2 linked regions of the Homo sapiens genome follow. The protein of the gene in region 1 binds, or shares a complex with, the protein of each later gene. Each region holds a gene or a part of one and is shown on either strand. Other genes may lie near its edges.

Region 1 (10,207 bases):
CTAGGCAGTGGGAATGTAAGTTGAACAAAACCGACACAATTCCTACTTCACAGAGCTCAAAGTTTAATGGGCGAGACAGAAAAGCAGGGGATTGCAGCACAAAGTGGAAGAGCCTTGACAGGGAAAAGATAGTGGGAACACAAGTGGAACACCTCTAGCCCAGCCCAGCCTCCTTGAGAATTAAAGTTGGCCTCTTGAGGAAATGAGCTACAAAGTCAAAAAAATTAGGGAGGCTGGCTCTAAGCTTCCTGTTGGCAAAAAAAAAAAAAAAAAAAAATATATATACACACACACACACACACACACACACACACACACACATATACATATGGGAGAGCCAGCCAAGTGAACGGGCAGAAGAGGCAGAAAGCATCCCAAATAAAAGGACAAGATGTATAAGAAGCTCAAAGTTTGAATTCATGGCACTTTTATCCACTGTGACATAGTTTTGAGTGACTAGAACATATATCTTAAGAAGGGAATAATGAACAGGCTGGAGACCAGCCTAGAGGGTTTGCAGAGAGCCTGCTAGGCCTGACCATGGAACATGGACTTTCTCCCGAGGGCAATAGGAACTACTAAAAGATTCGGTAGTACTACCAGGATTAGTTCTATAATGTGGAGAACGGATTGGAAGACATAAGATGGAAGGCAGGGGGATACTTTACAAGGTTACTATATTACACTGTTCTGGGTGAAAGATGATGCTAGCTGAGACTAAGGTAATGGCAAGGGAGATGGAGAGAGGTGGATAGATTTGAGAGCCTCTTCTGGAAATGGAATCAACAGATTAGAAGCAGAGAGGATGGAAGAGGTCAAGGGATGACATTCAGATTTCTAACTTGGACAACTGAATGGATATTGGTGCTATAGCAATTGTATACAATGAGAAAGATAACAAAACAGCAGAAACAGGTTTGGAAGAGGGAATTATAAATTCAGTTTGGAACCCATTGAGTTTAAATGTTAGTGGGGCATCCAGGTGAGGTTACCTAGTAAGCTGTTGAATCCAGGGGTCTGGAACTTACAGGAGAGGTCTGAGGTGGAAATACAGACTTGAAGAAGGTCTTTGCCTACAGGATGTAGAAGCCCCGAGAATAGTTAAAATCATAAAATTTTGTATAGAATGAGAAGAAAATAGGTCCTAGGTCAAGACTCTGCATAAGACCATTATTTAAAAGCCAGGCAGAGAAAGGAGAATTTATGAAGGAGATTCAGATGAAACCATCAGAAAGGCAGGAGCTACGCCCTTCCAGAAAGCAAGAAAAAGAGAGTTTCAAGCAGGTTGGGGTAAGTGATATCAAATGCTATTGACATAAGTTACATAAATAAAAAACAGGACAGTCAGAACAGCATCCTTCACATTCAATAACAAGAAAATATTTAGGAGTTGTAGGTATTGAGGCTTGACTATGGTAGGTTAAAGATTGGACTGGTGAGAGAAGGAGTTATGAGAAGTGAACCAAGGTATGTAGCCAAAACTTTCAAGAAGTCTGGTAGGCAAAGAAAGAGAGAGAGAGAGAGAGAGAGAGAGAGAGAGAGAGAGAAAGAAAAGCAGGATATTGCCAAAAATAGCATGAGATTGAGGAAGGGGGGAGTGGGTATGTGCATAGGTTTGTTACGTGTGTGCGCGTGTGTGTGCACGCATTTTAAAACAAGAGCTTTTTAAAATGTTTGTTGGTGATTGGGCCGAGAGAGGAAGATTGAAGGTGCAGATAAGAAAGGGGATAGTCAATAGAGAAGATTCCCTGTGAAAGCGGGATGTGACGCAATTCAGAGCACAGGTGCAAAAATTTGCCTCACTTATCTAAATGCTCCTCACACATTTGGATGTTACCCAGCCAGTCAGATGTTACACACAGAGACCCTGTCAGCCACACTCATTCAGATATTATCCCTGCAGATGCATAGGTTACCCAGGTTCACTCCAATGTTACCAATAGGAATTTGGATGTTACCACTTTATTCTCCTTATATAATCCATGCAGACTTGAGTATTACCCATGTTCACTCAGATAGTACCCACAGAAAGACAAATGTTACCACACTCACTTTAATATTGTCCGAAGTCATTTTGGTGTTACCCATCCATCAAACACTACTCACTTTCATTTTATTATTATCCACACACAACCAGATATTACCTATGCTCACTTAAGTAAGCTTTTCCCAGATACTACCCATAAAATTACAAATATTACTCTCACATACTCAGATAATACCCACAAAAGCTTAAATATTACTTACATTCACTCAGGTGCTCAGTTATTTCATTTACTCAGATTAACATCTTTTTTTTTTTTTTTTTTTTGAGGCAGTCTCCCTCTGTTGCCCAGGCTGGGGTGCAGTAGCATGATCATGGCTCATTGCAGTCTTGACCTCCGCAGGCTCAAGTGATCCTCCCACCTCAACCCCCTAAATAGCTGGGACTACAGGCATGTGCCACCACAAGTGGCTAATTTTTTGTATTTTTTGTAGAGATAGGGTTTTTCCATGTTGCCCAGGCTGGTCTCTAAATCCTTGGCTTAAGAGATCTGCCCACCTCAGCCTTCCAAAGTGCTGGGATTACAGATATAAGCCACCATGTCTGGCCCAGATTAACATCTTAATTTAGTTAACATGTTAACATCTAACATCTGTACTCAAATACTACCCATACATACTTGGATATTACTTCTGCTCAGTCAGCAATTTCTATCATTATTTGGATATTCCACTACTCACAAGTAGACCTCTGAATGTAATCTATGCTTCCTGAAGATGTTACCTACAAAATGTTATCTACAGAGAGTTGGATATTAACCCTTGCTCTTTCAAATGTTACTACAGTGACTCAGATATTATCTAAACTTAAATGTAAGCCATATTCAATCGGATATTACCTATAAGCATGTAGATGTTACCATTCTCCAGATATGTCCCACAGAAATAAGCGTGACTTTCACCTACCCATATACTATTTCAAAGATTAAAGTATGCCCAACACTCACTCTGATATTACCTACACACCCTTGCATATTACTTCTGCTCCCTCAGTACCCACTATGTGGATTCCCCCATTCACCCAGCCACTACCCACAGTCAGTTGGATGTGATCCCTGCTTATCATAGAGACAAGGGTATTACTTTGATGTCTGTGTGCATGGGTGAACAGATCAAACCTGCCAGTAGAATGCAGAATTTAAGGCATCAGCAGCTTCAGTGTTCTGTGGAGTTTTTCCTTAGAAAGTCTTGGTTTTCATTTTATGTCACGTTGTCTGGATTTTTGCACTCATACTTCTCTGCCATTATCTAGACAGAACAAATACAGATCTTCTAAACACCAGGAGAAGAACTGAACTGTCCCAATCTTCTGAGTCGCCTGGTCTGATGCCAGTTTTCCTCATCCCCAGGAAGATGATGAGATGATGCTCACGGGTAGACTTATCAAGGCACTTGTGGATGTACCCCAGCAGGTGCTATCTCCCATCCTTCTACCCATGCCTGTTTCCTAGTCACTGAAGCCACTGTCATCACTCATATTCCACCATGCAAACACACATCAATACACACACACACACACACACGCATACAAGTCTAAGTCTGATTTATTTTGTGCATGACTTTTTAAACTAATGGATTATTTTTAGAGCAGTTTTAAGTTTACAAAAATTACAGAGTGCCCATACACACACAACCACACATATACACAGAATTTACCCTATTATTAACAGCTTACATTAGTGTGGTACATGTGTCACAATTTATGAGCCAATATCAATACATTATTCTCTAAATTCTAGAGTTTACATTAGGGTTCACTTTTTGTGTTGTATGGTTCTATAGGTTTTGACAAATGTATAATGGCATGTATCCATCATTACAGTATCACACAGAATAGTTTCACTGCCCTAAAAATCCCCTGTACTTCATCTATTTATCCCTCGCTCTGCCTCTCCAAACTCCTGGCTCTAAAATTGCTTTTAATTAGAATTTTTCACATTTCTGAACTGTTCAACAGCAAAGACGTGTGGAGACAGTGGTGGCTGGAAATAAGATAATAGCTAGGAATGTCCAGTAAAACAGCAGAACACTGCACAGTTGCTGGTCATTTTTACTGGGACTTTGTCTTATAAATTTCAGGAGTCCCCAAGCATATTGCAAACTTTATAAGGGTAATATTTAGCTCCATCTTTATGGTCTATCACAATTAGCCAAGTTCAAGGGCACACACATGGGACATCAGCTGGATGAATGAATGAGAAATTGCTTTTCATGCTTCACAGTACTGTACCAATTTGAGGTGTGGCGAATTGCATCAATAATTAGTTGAAGAAAGACATCCAGGGCAGATGTAAGCAAGATAATGGAACTAGAAAGATTAAAGAGGTGGAGGCTGGGGGTGGGAGGACAATGGATTTGGAGAAGAAACAGTGAGTCCAAGATAAACCACCAGCTCTTTTCTGAGTCCAAGGACCTCTCTGACAGAGGTCTCCCTCCTAAAAGTCCTTTATTCTCCACCATACACACTTACTCCCCTCAAATTTTGTCACCTATAAGCCTTCTGTAATCCTTCCTTACAGAGAGAGGCCCAGCTTCTAAAGGAAATATAGATGGTTTGCATATAAAAAACAAAAGTTATGCATCTGAAATCATAACCTCTCACTGACCCCCACAAGGACCTTCCAACATGTGTCTCCAAAAAGACAGAGGCAAAGAAGAAGAAGAAAGGGCATGCTGGAGCACCTCTGCAGAGATGACGGATGGATGAGGAGGGGGAAAGCAGGTGCACTTCTGTCTTGAAAGACAGAATCATCCAAGATTCATTAACAAGCATGTGTTGACTGCCTCCCCTGTGCTAGGGATGATGAGTGCTAGGGATATACTGGAGAGCGAGATGGACCTTGCCACTGTCCTCAAGAAGCTCCTAGTCTAGTGGGGAAGACAGAGAATTACATACATACTAATACAGTGAAAAATGCCATGGTTGAGTATAGAGAGAGGGAGAAAGAGGCATTTAGATTGAGATTTGATTAAGAAGGAGGCAGTATGGGCCAGGCGTAGTGGCTCAAACCTGTAATCCCAGCACTTTGGGAGGCCAAAGCAGGTGATCACCTGAGGTCGGGAGTTCGAGACCAGCCTTACCAATATGGAGAAACCCATCTCTACTAAAAATACAAAATTAGCCGGGCGTGGTGGTGCATGCCTGTAATTCTAGCTACTCAGGAGGCTGAGGCAGGAGAATCGCTTGAACCCAGGAGGCAAAGGTTGCGGTGAGCCAAGATCATGCCATTGCACTCCAGCCTGGGCAACAAGAGCAAAACTCCATCTCAAAAACAAAAACAAAAACAAACAAACAAACAAAAAACATGGAGGTAGTATGATGAATAACAGAGTACTGCAGGAACAAACAGTAGGAGGCAAAGCACATTAGGGATCAGGGACTTGGCTTCTATTCTGATTCAGCCCCTTATCAGGTGTGTGGTCTTGAGCAAAGAATGTTACTGCTGAGTTCGGTTTGGAAGTTTTTATAAATAGCATTTATTTGATGCCTACAATTTCTAAATAAATTGGTTTTTGTTATGAGAAAATACAGTCATGCATTAACTAATGATGGGGATACCTTCTGAGAAATGCATCATTAGGTGATTTCATTGTGTAAACATCATAGAGTGTTTGTCACACAAACCTAGAAGGTATAGCCTACTACATACCTAGGCTATACGGTATAGCCTACTGCTCCCAGGCTGCAAACCTGTACAGTATATTACTGTGCTGAATATTGTAGGGAAGAGTAACACAATGTTATGTATTTGTGTATCTAAACATAGAAAAGGTACAGTGAAAATACAGCATAAAAGATAAACCATCATACACCTGTATAGGGCACGTACCGTTAATGGAACTTGCAGGAGTAGATGTTGCTCTGGCTAAGTCAGTGATGAGTGGTGAGTGAAAGTAAAGGCCTAGGACATTACTGTACACTACTGTAGACTTTATAAACACTGGATACTTAGGCTACACTAAATGTATTTAATAATAAATTAAACTTAGCATACTGTAACTTTTTACTTTATAAACTTTTTGACTCTTTTGTAATAACACAGTGTAAAACAAAAAACACATTGTATGGCTATACAAAAATATTTTCTTTTTTTATACTCTTATCCTATAAGCATTTTTCTGTTTTTAACTTTAGAAAAAAAAAAAACCTTTCTGTTAAAACCAAGACACAAACACACACATTGGGCTACACAGGGTCAGGATAAATATTGCCATCTTCCACCTCTACATCTTGTCCCACTGGAAGGTCATCAGGGCAACACCACACATGGAGCTGTCATCTCCTATAATAACGGTGCTTTATTCTGGAATACATCTTAAAGGACCTGCCTGAGTCTGTTTTATAGTTAACTTTTTTAAAAAAATAAGTAAGAGTATACTCTAAAATAATGATTGAAAGTATAATGTAGTAAATACATCAACCAGTCACACAGTCATTTATTATCACTATCAAGTATTATGTACATCATTGTATGTGCTAGGCTTTTATATGACTGACAGCACAGTAGGTTTGTTTATACCAGTATCCCCACAAACACATACGTAATGCATTATGCTGCAATGTTACAATAACATTACTAGGTGATAGAAACTTTTCAGCTCCATTATAATCTTTTGTTGTTGTTATTTTGGGTTTTGTTTGAGACAGAGTCTCACTCTGTTGTGCAGGCTGGAGTGCAGTGGCACTATCATAGCTCATTGCAGCCTTGAACTCCTGGGTTCAAGCAATCTTTCTGCCTCAAACTCCTGAGTAGCTATGACTATAGGCACGTATCACCACACCCAGCTAATTTTTTATGTTTTGTAGAGACGGGACTTTGCTATGTTGCTCAGGCTGATCTCAAGCTCCTGGCCTCAGGTGATCCTCCCGCCTTGGCCTCTCAAAGTGCTGGGATTACAAAGATAAGCCACTGCACTCAGCTGTTCATTACAATCTTATGAGACCACCATCGTATATGAAATTGGTCATTTACCAAAACATCGTTATTCAGTGCATGGCTGTAGTTTTCAATTTGGGAGCTAAAATGAGAATCAGTCAAAGTATGGGGCTCTGGAAGAGGGGGCTGCAGCTTTGAGGCTTTCCTTCTCTGCAATCTAGGAGGCTCTGTCCCCTGCCCTCTCTACCTTCCAGCTCTAATCCCTCTCATGCTGAGGCCATAGGTGTGAGTAATTCAGTCCTGTTCAATCCAATTCGATTTTATCTAAATCTGCTTGGCTGTGATGTGGTGGTCCAAAGATTAATCCATCTTTTAATAGACAATGACACAAAAGAATGGGGTCAGCCTCCCAGCCCCTCTGCCTCACACAGGTGTCCCTCCTATGAGCTCCAACAGCACCTTATACATCCTTCAGCCTCACTCCTTATCACATCTGTTTATGTATCTGAGTTTACTTCCCCACTGTGAGCTCTCAAATGGCAGGGATCTTGTCATGTTCATCTCTTTGTCCCCAGTGCCTAGCACAAAGGGAGTCCTCTGTAAATGTTTATAGAGTGAGAATGAATGTTTGGAGAGAATTAAAATACAAGGCAGAAGTAAAATAGGCTGTAATAGTTGTGTAAGAAACAGGCATGGGTCAGAGAAAGAGGAGAGTAGAAGGGCCTTACAGAAGGGCCTTACAGAAGAAGTAGCAGTCAATTTGAGTCTTGACCAACAAGGGATGAATAGGAATTCACCAGATACAGAAAATAAGCTTGTGATGAGGGGTAGAAGTTGTGAGGAGGGTTGGTAAAAGAGTATTCCGGTCTGAGAAACCAGCTTGAGCAGGGAGAGAGTCACAAGTGCAAATGATGCATTCAAGAAATTGAGTCATCCAGTGGCTTGCTTAAATGCCTGCTGTACAGGGAGGGGGTGGGAGAGAAAGAAGTCCCTTCTGGGAGGATCTTGATGATATTCTGAGGGGTTGCAGACAGTAGAGAGTAAGTGAAGTATTTTTTTTTTTTTTTTTTTTGCTTTTGTTTTTAGAGAATAAAGACATGATCTGATGTGATTCAAAAGGTAGTGGGTTGTCAACAGTGTAGAATACTCTAGCGGGGTCAAATAGAGTAGGCTAAGAAAGGACCTTTGAATTTAGCAGTTAAAGATTAGTGTACTTGGGAAGAAGTATGCACTGATAGGGCACAGAATATTGTATTGTAATGGAATGAAGAGTAAATGAGAAGACACAAATATCCTCTTAAGAAGTTTGTCTGCAGAAAGAAGGAAAGATTTGGAACGAACCTTGAGAAGAGACAGGCTTTCTTAAGGAAGGGCAGAGTTGGGCCAATTTAACCAAACCTCAAGGGGTTAGAAGGCTAAAGGATTCAAGTTCACCATTTACTGAGCAGTTCATCGGTGGGGAATGTAGGCATCTGGCTGGGTAGTGAGGGTTGGGGATAAGACGGAAGGAGGGGGATTTGACTGAATGAAGGCTGACCCCCTACTGCCACCTCTCCCTTTTCTTACCCAGAATTGGAGCTGGCCATTAGAATCACTCTTTACGCAGTGATCTTCCTGATGAGCGTTGGAGGAAATATGCTCATCATCGTGGTCCTGGGACTGAGCCGCCGCCTGAGGACTGTCACCAATGCCTTCCTCCTCTCACTGGCAGTCAGCGACCTCCTGCTGGCTGTGGCTTGCATGCCCTTCACCCTCCTGCCCAATCTCATGGGCACATTCATCTTTGGCACCGTCATCTGCAAGGCGGTTTCCTACCTCATGGGTGGGTGAGACAACCACCCCACCCCCACTTGCCACTCTCCCCGCCTAAAGCTCTTGTGGATGTAGGGGTCTTCCCCGGTTGGCAGGGAGGGGTGTGAGGAAGTCCCACTGATGCTTGTGTAGTGCAAGTTTCCTAGGTGACTCCTTCCTTTCTCTTCCCTTGTTTAGGGGTGTCTGTGAGTGTGTCCACGCTAAGCCTCGTGGCCATCGCACTGGAGCGGTACAGCGCCATCTGCCGACCACTGCAGGCACGAGTGTGGCAGACGCGCTCCCACGCGGCTCGCGTGATTGTAGCCACGTGGCTGCTGTCCGGACTACTCATGGTGCCCTACCCCGTGTACACTGTCGTGCAACCAGTGGGGCCTCGTGTGCTGCAGTGCGTGCATCGCTGGCCCAGTGCGCGGGTCCGCCAGACCTGGTGAGCTTGCCCATAAACTATCCTAGGAATTCCTTTCTCACCCCTATTAGATGCTTACGACCATTGCCCAGAATCTTCCTCCAGCTTCCCGGAGAATTACCACGCCAACTCCTATTCTGCATCCACCACCCTGGAGTTCCAGTTTGGGGCCCCTCCCCAGTTCTCTCTCCCTTCCCAGCGGCACCCCCAAATCCTACTCCTACTTCAGGTACCTGGCCACAGCCCTAGAAACACTAGTCCTTGGCTTTTTCTCCATCTGTGATTACAGCTGGACAGAAACCCGAGTGATCTGTCTGTGTTGCCTTCAGGTCCGTACTGCTGCTTCTGCTCTTGTTCTTCATCCCGGGTGTGGTTATGGCCGTGGCCTACGGGCTTATCTCTCGCGAGCTCTACTTAGGGCTTCGCTTTGACGGCGACAGTGACAGCGACAGCCAAAGCAGGGTCCGAAACCAAGGCGGGCTGCCAGGTGGGGCTGGACCACGTGAGCAAAATCTGGGCGAGGCGGAGCTTTGGAGGGCGACGGGGCCTGCTGGAGTGGGTGGGACTGAAATGAAGGTGAGGGTGAGAAGGAAGCTGGAAATGGAGTTGAGCTGGGAGCGGAGGTCAGGTGGGGACTGGGCTGGAGACTGGGGGGACTCGCCTTTTTCTCTGACCGCCCACCCTTTGTGCTCAGGGGCTGTTCACCAGAACGGGCGTTGCCGGCCTGAGACTGGCGCGGTTGGCGAAGACAGCGATGGCTGCTACGTGCAACTTCCACGTTCCCGGCCTGCCCTGGAGCTGACGGCGCTGACGGCTCCTGGGCCGGGATCCGGCTCCCGGCCCACCCAGGCCAAGCTGCTGGCTAAGAAGCGCGTGGTGCGAATGTTGCTGGTGATCGTTGTGCTTTTTTTTCTGTGTTGGTTGCCAGTTTATAGTGCCAACACGTGGCGCGCCTTTGATGGCCCGGGTGCACACCGAGCACTCTCGGGTGCTCCTATCTCCTTCATTCACTTGCTGAGCTACGCCTCGGCCTGTGTCAACCCCCTGGTCTACTGCTTCATGCACCGTC
Region 2 (10,519 bases), on another chromosome or scaffold:
CATGCTGGTCTCGAACTCCTGTTCTCAAGTGATCTGCCTGCCTCAGCCTCCCAAAGTGCTGGGATTACAGACATGAGCCACTGCGCCTGGCTAAATGGCTTATTTAAAAAAAAAAAAAAAAAAAAAAAAAGAATTGCATCATTTCCAAAGCTGGCTGGGTGGGCACATTATGAGCAGGGGTGTTGCCCTTGCCACATGGCAGCATCTCTCTGGCTCGTGGACAGAAATGACCTCTGCCGTCTGCCAGGGATCATTTGGAATCAGGTGGGTTTATATATGCAGCAAAACTTCAGTAAAGCTTGAAGAAACGCACTGATCCTTCTACCTTCTCTGAAATAACGTTCTCAATAGCGAGGTCATAGGCATAACCAGCCATCCAAACCTCCCCCATGGCCCCTTGAGCCCACCATGTGTCACTCCAACCCACCCCACTCCTGGGCTCAATAGACAACAAAGAAAAGGGAAGAGAAAGAACAAAGACCCCCCTCGATCACCATTGTGTCCCCAGGGTCAGAACAGTGCCTGACACAAAGCAGGCACTTGGAAAATTTGTGTTGAGTAAACAGATGCATGGATGAATGAGTGAATGAAAGAGTGAAAGCACACGGTCTCTAAGCAGGCAGGAGGGTCTGGGATGATGGGCCCTGGTGGAGGGGCTGACACTGAATGGGGTGACAGAACCTCCAGCGATGGAGGAAAGGAGGAAAGGACGGAAGCGGGACTTAGGCAGCTGTGTTCACGGTGGGGAAAAGGGGGCTGACGTCAAATGACCTTGGGAATGAAAGAGAAATGATTCACCACAGTTGCCAGTAACAACCAAGCTGCAGAATATTAATTTGCAATTGAATCAACTGGTCACTTTCGGAAACTTCCTGTCGGTTTTTGCAGGGAGTGGCAGGAGCTGAGGAAGGGGTCGGGGTGGCCTGTCAGGGACCTGGGACCAGCCTGGCAGGTTCAGAAGCAGGACAGGGGCAGCAATCTATGTGCATCACACAGAACTGAGATGACAAACCCTGGGAGGGGTAGGCGGGCTGGGAGGAGCCAGACAGTGGAGGAGCTGGAGGTCACAGTGAAGACAGATTCAGCAGGAGCGAGGCTTCTGGAGAGGGTGGGATGGGAAGCTGTGGGCCGAGAAGAGGCAGCAGCACATGGAGTCCAAGACCCGGGGGTTCCCCAACTCAGCTCCCTCACCTCCTACCTGTTGGGCCGGGGATGAGCCATTCAGCCTGGAACACACCCGAATAAAGACTCCTCTCATCCTCTCACAGAGGGGCCTTTAGGATTATTTTTCCCAGTTAAAACCACTGTTAGGCCAGGCGTGGTGGCCCATGCCTATAAATCCCAGGGCTTTGGGAGGCCAGGAGGGAGGATCACTTGAGGCCAGGTGATCCAAATACAAAGCCTGGGCTGAGAACCACTGCTTCGAAGGCACAGGTGGGCATCAGAGGAGAAAAGGAGAGAGGAGGCTCAGGAGAGAAGCGGAAGCCAGAGTAAGGGTAGCCACTACTCTCTGTCCTTGACAGCCCAGCCTGGGCCCAGGGGTGGTGGGCAGCCTCTCCAGCCCAGTCTGCAAGCAGCTTGCAGGCTGCCCTCTTGGCCCTGCCATGTCACCACTCTCAGACAGCAGCTGAGGCCAGAACCCAAGAACCCACCTCCCCCTACCTAGCCCCCTACCCCAGGGGGGATCATGGATGCCCTCATTGATGCAAACACCTTCCAGGTGTCACTGTTTGTCCCCAGAACTACCACATCCTCCAAAGCCCTGGTTGCCTGGGCCAGAATGATTGAGTCGTCATCAAGCTCTTCCTTTTCTGCCATCAATAACCAATTAGGAAGCCAAGGCACTGCCTCCCTGACAACGGTTTGCAGCTCATCAATAGTGATCTGTTTCCCAAAGCCAGCCCTGGCAGGCAGGAGTGTGCCTGGGTCCACTGAGAAGCCTCTCCCTCCTCAGGGAACAGTCTCCTTCACAGGGGACCCTTGTTTTTCTGTTACTCTTTTTTTTTTTTTTTTTTTTTTTTTTTTTTTTTTTTTTTTGAGACAGAGTCTCACTCTGTCGCCAGGCTGGAGTGCAGTGGCACGATCCCAGCTCACTGCACCCTCTGCCTCCCAGGTTCAAGCAATTCTCCTGCCTCAGCCTCCCAAGTAGCTGGGACTACAGGCACACACCACCACGCCCGGCTTTTTTTTTTTTTTTGTATTTTAGTAGAGACAGGGTTTCACCATGTTGCCCAGGCTGGTCTTGAACTCCTGAGCTCAGGCAATCTGCCCACCTTGGCCTCCCAAAGTGCTAGGATTACAGGCGTGAGCCACCACACCCGGCCGTGTGTTACTCTTTTATGCCCCTAGAATCTAAACTCCACCAAAGCAATGAAAGGGTCTGTCCTGTCATAGTCACCTGTTTTTTTTTTTGAGACAAAGCTTCACTCTTGTTGCCCAGGCTGGCGTGCAATCGCACAATCTCAGCTCATTGCAACCTCTGCCTCCCATGTTCAAGCAATTCTTCCACCTCAGCCTCCCAAGTAGCCAGGATTACAGACGTGCACCACCATGCCCGGCTAATTTTGTATTTTTTAGTAGAGACAGAGTTTCATCATGTTGGTCAGGCTGGTCTTGAACTCCCAAACTTAAGTGATCCACCCACCTCAGCCTCCCAAAGTGCTGGGATTACAGGCGTGAGCCGCTGCACCCAGCGCTGTCATATTCACCTCTTATCCCCAAGTAGCCTCATCTGTACCCTAGCTCACAGCAGGTGCTCAGTAATTGGAATGAATTTGGAATATTCGGATGGTCAGAATAACTCAAAGAACAGCTCCCTTCTTTGTATTTGAAAATTTACATGGAAATTCATGCTGGGCCAGTTTTTACTAAACAGAAACCTTCACAAGGCTGTGATCCCTTGTATCCATTTTTGATTGCTACCATAATAAGTCACCACAATTTAGAAGCTTAAAACAACAGCAATTTATTCTCTCGCGGTTCTGTAGGTCAGAAGTCCTGGTACAGAGTGGCTCACGGGGTCCCCTGATTAGGATCTCCCAAGGCCACAATCAGGTCGGCAGGGCTGCATTTCTTTCTGGAGGCTCTAGGGATGAATCCACTTCCAAGCTCATCCAGGTTGTTGGCCAGATTTCATTCTTTGTAGTTGCGGGGCTGACATTCCTCTTTCCTGGCTGTCGGTGGAGAACCTCTCAGCTCCTCAAGGCCACTGCTTTCCTCGTCCTGTTGCCCTCCTGCCATCTTCAGACCAGCAATTGCTTGTGGAGTCCTCATAACTCCAGCTCTCCGACCTGACCTTCAGCCACATCTCTTCTGCCTCTAGCTGAAGAAAGTTAAGGGCTATGTGATTACACTGGGCCCAGTCAGATAATCCAGCATAAACTCCCTAATTTTTTTTTTCAGAGACAGGGGTCTCACTATGTTGCCCAGGCTGGTCTCAAACTCCTGGGCTTAAGTGATCCTCCTGCCTCAGCCTCCAGAGTAGCTGGGACTACAGGCATGCACCACTGCACTTGGCATAAGCTCTCTATTTTAAAGCCAGTAACCTTAATCACACCTGCAACGTCTCTTTTGTTATGTAATCACATATTCACAGGTTCCAAGGATTGGGGCAGGAACATCTTTGGGGACATGATTGTTCTGCCTGCCACATTCCTACTGGGAGGATAGAGACCTGAGTTTCAGACCCACCTCTCCTTTTTGGTGTGTGGACTCAGGATGGGGATTACTTCACCTGTCTAAGCCTTAGTTTCTACTTCTTTTTTTTTTTTTTTTTTTTTTTTGAGACAGCGTCTCACTCTGTCTCCCAAGTACAGTGGCACAATCATGGCTCACTGCAACCTCACCTCCCCGGCTCAAGCAATCCTCCCACCTCAGCCTCCCAAATAGCTGGGACCACAGCCACGCACCACCACACCCAGCTAATTTTTGTATTTTTTGTAGAGATGGGGTTTTGCCATGTTGCCCAGGCTGGTCTTCAACTGTTGGGCTCAAGTAATCTGCCGGCCTCGGCCTCCCCAGGTGCTGGGATTACAGGCGTAAGCCCCCGTACCCATCAGTTTCTTCTGAAGAAGGGGTTCACACTAGCACTTAGGTCCTAGGATCATGGTGAAGAGTGATTGCATTCATTCATGCTAAGAGCTTATCAGTTCCTGGTACACGGCATTGTTATCGTTGTGATGACAGGGGCAGGGCCCACACACCTGCACCCTCGAGGGGGACGGAGATGGGTCCCAAGGTCTGGGATCTGGTCTTCAATTTGGTAGGCCCAGAAATTGAATTTTCTGCTCACCCAGCTAGTCGGTGTTAGAGCCATGATTCAAACCCTGGCCTCACCAGTTCCAAAACCCCCTGTACACCAGGAGGTCCAGCTTCCATAGACTCTATCCCTGCTGCCTCTTTCAGTGGCAGTTGGGCTGAGGTCCCTCTGAGTCACAGCTGGCAGGAGGGAAACCCTTGGATTCACAGAGTGATATGCTTAGGGAATTACCCTCCTTTAAGCCTTGGGGAAGGAGAACTCCCCCAAGTGTATAAAGCGTGTGCACAGACCTTGTCACCTCTTCCCTTCACTGCAGCCCTATGAGGTACAAATGAATGATTCCTATTTCCAAATGTGGTTAATTGAGACCCAGAGAGGATGGGGGAGAAGACGCAAAATGGATTAAATACCTGCGATATTCTCTTTTGTTTGTCTGTTTGTTTGAGACAGTCTCACTGTGTCACCCAGGCTGGAGTGCAATGGCACAATCTTGGCTCACTCCAACCTCCACTTCCTGGGTTCAAGCAATTCTCGTGCCTCAGCCTCCCAAGTAGCTGGGATTACAGGCATGTGCCACCACGCCCAGCTAATTTTTGTATTTTTAGTAGAAACGGGGTTTCACCATGTTGTTCAGGCTGGTCTCGAACTCCTGACCTCAGGTGATCTGCTTGCCTTGGCCTCCCAAAGTGCTGGGATCACAGGCATGAGCCACCGCACCCGGCCAAATATCTGCAATGTTTTGAGCACCGTGCAGGGCGCTTTATGTACATCACCTTCACGAGACCCTCCTCCCCAAGTTACTTTCCTCATTTCCTAGAGGAGAAAACAGCTCAGAGAAGGAGAGAAATATGCTCAAAGCTCAACAGCTGGAAAAAGACAGGACCAGGAAACCCTTCCTTTTCCATCAGACGAGGTCCCCTCATGAGGAGAACGTGCAGTCCGTGACTGGGGAGCTCCTCAGGGTCAAGGATGCTCATCTCTGAATGCAACCCTTCCCCTGCAGACCTGGCAGGGTCTGCAAATAGTGACATTCTTTTTTTTTTTTTTTTTTTTTTTTTGAGACAGAGTCTCGCTCTGTCACCAGGCTGGAGTGCAATGGCATGATCTCAGCTCACTGCAACCTCTCTGTGCCTCCCAGGTTCAAGCGATTCTCCTGCCTCAGTCTCCCGAGTAGCTGGGATTACAGGCGCCCGCCACCATGCCCAGCTAATTTTTGTATTTTTAGTAGAGTCAAGGTTTCACCATGTTGGCCAGGATGGTCTCGATCTCTTGACTTCGTGATCCACCTGCCTCAGCCTCCCAAAGTGCTGGGATTACAGGAGTGAGCCACCAAGCCTGGCCAAATAGTGACATTCTAACCATTGCCTATGGAATAGGAGACATGCTTCTATTTGTTGAAATTGTCATCCCTCATGTAACCAGCCTGGGGAAGAACATTCAAGGGGGCATAACCCCCTCCATGGGCACAAACTGAGTCTTGGGCTCTGGTACAACCAGGGTTCTACTGAAAACTTATCATTTCCCATTAGTGTTACCATAGCAACACGAATGTCTTCATTCATTCCCCTAGTGTATGAACAGAGCTACACTCACCCCACCTGTTCTCCCAAGCCCCCTCAAAGTCCTTTCATCTCTGAGATTCTGTGATTCAATTAATTATCACCAATGCCTGCACTGCTTTTTGTCGTTTTCATTTATTCCATCTGCTGAGTCACCGTGTCCTGCTCTAGATGAGAGTGGTTATTCACAACGGTTATTCAGCCGTCAGTTGCCATGGACACCGCACAGCCTGCTTCCTTCATCACCCATTAATTCTCAGCAAGGCTGGCTGTAAGCATGGGTACCACTGCAGTTACCCAATACCCAAGGGGATCAAACTCTCCCAGAAAAGGTGGGGGCCCAATGACGCATGAACAGGAGCAAAATCTCTGCTCTCAACAGTGGAAAAGTAAAAAACAGCCTACGGCTCATTACATCTGGTCAAACCATGTGGAGGCAGCAGTTTATCAAATAAGTCAACAAGGTACCATTTTGTTTTCTGGTCCATCTTTGGCAAATGCTTTAGTCTGTTTGCTAACCATTTGAAGGTATATTTTGATACTGAAAAGTTGTTGGCTGGGCATGGTGGCTCACGTCTGTAATCCCAGAACTTTGGCAGACTAAGCTGGGCCGATCATGAGGTCAGGAGTTCGAGACCAGCCCGCCCAACACGATGAAACCCCATCTCTACTAAAAATACAAAAAATTAGCCAGGCGTGGGGGCGTGCGCCTGTAATCCCAGCTACTAGGGAGGTTGAGGCAGAAGAATCGCTTGAACCCAGGAGGCGGAGGTTCCAGTGAGCCGAGATCACACCACTGCACTCCTGCACTCCAGCCTGGTGACAGAACTAGACTTTGTCTCAAAAAAAAAAAAAAGTTGTTATGCAGATTACTAGCTCCCCTTGAAAGCAAAATGAAGGAGGCTTCAAAGGCAGGACCCTCCAGGAATTGGTTCTGCATAGGGGGTTTGCAAGTGGTGGTGCATGGGCAGCTGACCTAGAAGACACGGGGCAGCTACAAGCCAAACCCAGCCCAGCACAGAGGGCCTAAGGAGAAGAAGGCACCAAGGGTGTTCCATGGTAGGGGGAGGGTGAAAGGACTTCAGAGGTGACCAGGATGTGAGCCACTAGAAGGAGAGAACAGGGCCATCAGCCCACAACCCATTGCTCCTGGTAACACGTTATGTTTGCAGAGTCCAGTGGAGGGGACGGGGAATCAATACATCACCCCACATTCACACGCTTGCCAAACATCAGTGGATGGCGAAATCCACTTTCCCTGAATCTAAGCCCATCGGGTTCACTCCCTCACCTACCACCACCCACAAAGGTCCCTATGTAGTTCGAGAGATAAGTGCCAGGCCTCTGACCCCCAGGATATGGTGGGAAGCATTGCTCCTGACCCAGGGAGCTTGGTTCCTGCCCCTCAGGTACAGCTGGAGAGCTGCCGCCACCCCGCTCCAGCCCCTCACCATGAAGGTCAACTCCCCTATCCTTCCCCCACATCCTGGATGACTGACTGACACTAAATGAAAGGGCGGGGCAGGGTGATGGGCTGTACCTGTGCCCCACCCCATTCCTCTCGCCTGGACTCATATGGCAGGGTAGGGGCGGGGTGGGGGGACAGTTGGGAGGGACCTTGAGGGCTTTATAAGGCAGGCCTGGAGCATCAAGCAGAGCAGAGACCTGAGAGGCACCAGGCCCAGCCGTGGCACCACACACCTCCCAGCTCTGCAGGTGAGAAAACCCAGGAGGAGAGGGGAGAGGCTAGGAAGTGGGTTGACAGGTCCTCTCCCCCATCAAGGTACCAGGCCACTGGCCAGAGTCTGGGGCTCACCCCTTGGGGTCTCCAGAGCTGGGACCCTTTCTTTATCCCAGGATGGAACTAGGTCTTGGCTCCAGTACCTACCCTGGTATTCCCAACCTTGCCTTCCACCTGCCCTTCTGCCGCAGCCGGGGCCCTGCCCTTAGCCTATCCCTTCACACTCTTCCCAGCCCTGGGAGGTGAGGAGGACTGGGGTTCTTCTCCTTTCTCTCAGACAAGAAAACTGAGGCCCAGAGGCAAGATGTGACTTGCCCAAAGTCACAGGGATTATTAGGCAAGGCTGGGATAGGAATCCACAGCTCCTGGATCCCACTTCAAGCCCTTTCCTAGACCAGTGCCATCCAAAAGAACGTCCTATGATGCAGGAAATGGTCTTCATCTGCACTGTTCAATATGGTAGCCACTAGCCACGTGTGCGCTTGAAATGGGGTTAGTGTAAGGAAGTTTTTGTTGTTGTTGTTGTTTGTTTTTTTATATAGAGTCTCGCCGTGTCACCCAGGCTGGAGTGCAGTGACATGCAACCTCTGCCTCCCAGGTTCAAGCAATTCTCCTGACTCAGCCTCCCGAGTAGCCGGGATTACAGGCGCCTGCCACAACACCCAGCTAATTTTTCATATTTTTGGTAGAGACAGAGTTTCACCATGTTGGCCAGGCTGGTCACAAACTCCTGACCTCAAGTGATCCAACCCCCTCAGCCTCCCAAAGTGCTGGGATTACAGGCGTGAGCCACTGCACCTGACCATAATTTTTTAATTTAATTAATTTAAATGTAAAGAGCCACATGTGGCTGGTGGCTATAGCACTGAACAACACATGTGGTTAGCATCTGACAATACAGCTCCAGATCACTGATTTTTCAAACATTTCTTCAGCAGCAGAATTCTTTTCTTCCAAAGAAAACCTAACAGAAAACCTGATTATGAAAAACTTAATGGCCAGGCACCGTGGCTCATGCCTGTGATCACAACACTTTGGGAGGCTGAAGCAAGCAGATTGCTTGAGCTCAGGAGTTCCAGACCAGCCTGGGCAACATAGTGAGACCTCATCTCTACTAAAAATAAAAACAAAAAAATTAGCTGGGCATAGTAGTGCACACTTGTAGTCCCAACTACTCAGGAGGCTGAGGTGGGAGGATCTCTTGAGCCCAAGAGGTCGAGGCTGCAGCGAGTCAGGATCACGCCAGCCACTGCATTCCAGCCTGGGAGACAGAGCAAGATTCTGTCTCACAAAAAGAAAAGAAAAAAAGAAAAACTTAAAAGCAGTACAGTATTTTATTAATACAAATGTATTCTGACAAGAGAAAATTTTTATCATTTTCTTATGATAAAGCCAATCAGAATAGTGAGACCAAAAGCATACAAAAATAGTGAGTCCAGGGAATAGATGAGCATTTGAATTTTATGTTTGTTTGAGATTCCAGTTTAGTTCTGTATTATGTTTTCCCCAAACTTGATTCACCCTGATACATAATTGCTAATGGTGACAGCTTAATTTTTTCTTAACTGCTTCATTATAATCACAGGATATTCCTCAGTTAAGCAAAAATGACAGGAGAACCTTTCCTCTCAGGGCTGCACAAAAATCAGTGTGAGCTGGCCAAGCATTGAATGTGCTGCAGTCTCCAAAGTGATAACATGCGGTCTGTAACACAGCTGGATGTCCATGTTCCTTTGGTATTACTATTTAAAAGTTTCACTTTTTGTTTTTGTTTTTTTGAGACAGGGTCTCACTCTGTCGCCCAGGCTGGAGAGCAGTGGTGCAATCTCGGCTCACTGCAACCTCCACCTCCCCGGTTCAAGCGATCCTCCCACCTCGGCCTCCCAAGTAGCTGGGAATACAGGTGCATGCCACCATGCCTGGCTAATTTTTGTATTTTTTGTAGAGATGGGGTTTCAGTATGTTGCCCAGGCTGGTCTCAAACTTGTGGGCTCAAGGGATCCATCCTCCTCAGCCTCCCAAAGTGCTGGGATTACCATGCCTGGCCTAAAAAGTTCACTTTAAATAACAAGTCTTGGGCTGAGCACAGTGGCTCACATCTGTAATCGCAGCACTTTGGGAGGCTGAGGCGGGAGGATTGCTTGAGCCCAAGAGTTCAAGACTAGCTTGGGCAACATGGTGAAACCCTGTTTCTACAAAAAATACAAAAAAAATTAGCTGGACGTGGTGGTGCAAGCCTGTAGTCCCAGCTCTTCTGGAGGCTGAGGTGGGAGGATCACCTGAGCCCAGGAGGTAGAGGCTGCAGTGAGCAGTGATTGCACTACTGCACTGCAGCCTGGGCGACAGAGTGAGACCCTGTCTCAATAAATAAATAAATTACATTACTTAAACAGCTACAGAACCACTAACATGGCCTCAAATTCTGCAGAACAGAACCTAGGGAAACCATTGCCCTAGGATTTGACTTTCTCCAATAGAAGCAGTGGCTGTAATCGGGGTAGGTAAAGAGAAAAAACACAAGACTTCGGGGCTGGTGTGGAACTGGCAGAAACTGGAGAACTGATCTGAAGAAATAGTCCACAACTCCACACAGAATTGCAGACTCACCCGGGTGCGGTGGCTCATGCCTGTAATCCCAGCATTTGGGAGGCCGAGGCGGGTGGATCACCTGAGGTCAGGAGTTCGAGACCAGCCTGGCCAACATGGTGAAACCCCATCTCTACTAAAAATTACAAAAATTAGCCAGGCATGGTGGCACGTGCCTATAGTCACAGATATTCTGGAGGCTGAGGCAGGAGAATCACTTGAACCCGGGAGGCGGAGGTTATAGTGAGCCGAGATCCCACCACTGCACTCCAGCCTGGGCAACAAGAGTGAAACTCTGTCTAAAAAAAAAAAAAAGAAAGAATTGCACACTCATCAGCAGGTAGAGGCCTGGAGCCACATGGTTCAGTCCCCTGC

The links.
Region 2: the proteins of CCKBR (region 1) and GAST are in contact, whole or in part, in a cryo-EM structure (PDB 7XOW), measured with the Homo sapiens proteins. Residues at the interface, in NP_795344.1 of Homo sapiens: Cys107, Pro114, Asn115, Gly118, Thr119, Phe120, Met134, Gly135, Val138, Tyr189, Gln204, Cys205, His207, Leu222, Val349, Tyr350, Ala352, Asn353, Arg356, Pro361, Ala363, His364, Leu367, Ser368, Ile372, His376, Tyr380; in NP_000796.1 of Homo sapiens: Glu85, Ala86, Tyr87, Gly88, Trp89, Met90, Asp91, Phe92.

The regions. Positions count from the first base shown.
Region 1 is NC_000011.10:6,261,179-6,271,385, forward strand, and holds part of CCKBR (gastrin/cholecystokinin type B receptor), read left to right. Parts: intron 1-8,490; coding exon 8,491-8,742; intron 8,743-8,909; coding exon 8,910-9,159; intron 9,160-9,467; coding exon 9,468-9,625; coding exon of another isoform or gene 9,626-9,832; coding exon 9,833-10,207. UniProt on the Homo sapiens protein: Receptor for gastrin and cholecystokinin. The CCK-B receptors occur throughout the central nervous system where they modulate anxiety, analgesia, arousal, and neuroleptic activity.
Region 2 is NC_000017.11:41,704,855-41,715,373, forward strand, and holds the start of GAST (gastrin preproprotein), read left to right. Parts: upstream 1-7,476; 5' UTR 7,477-7,533; intron 7,534-10,519. UniProt on the Homo sapiens protein: Gastrin stimulates the stomach mucosa to produce and secrete hydrochloric acid and the pancreas to secrete its digestive enzymes. It also stimulates smooth muscle contraction and increases blood circulation and water secretion in the stomach and intestine.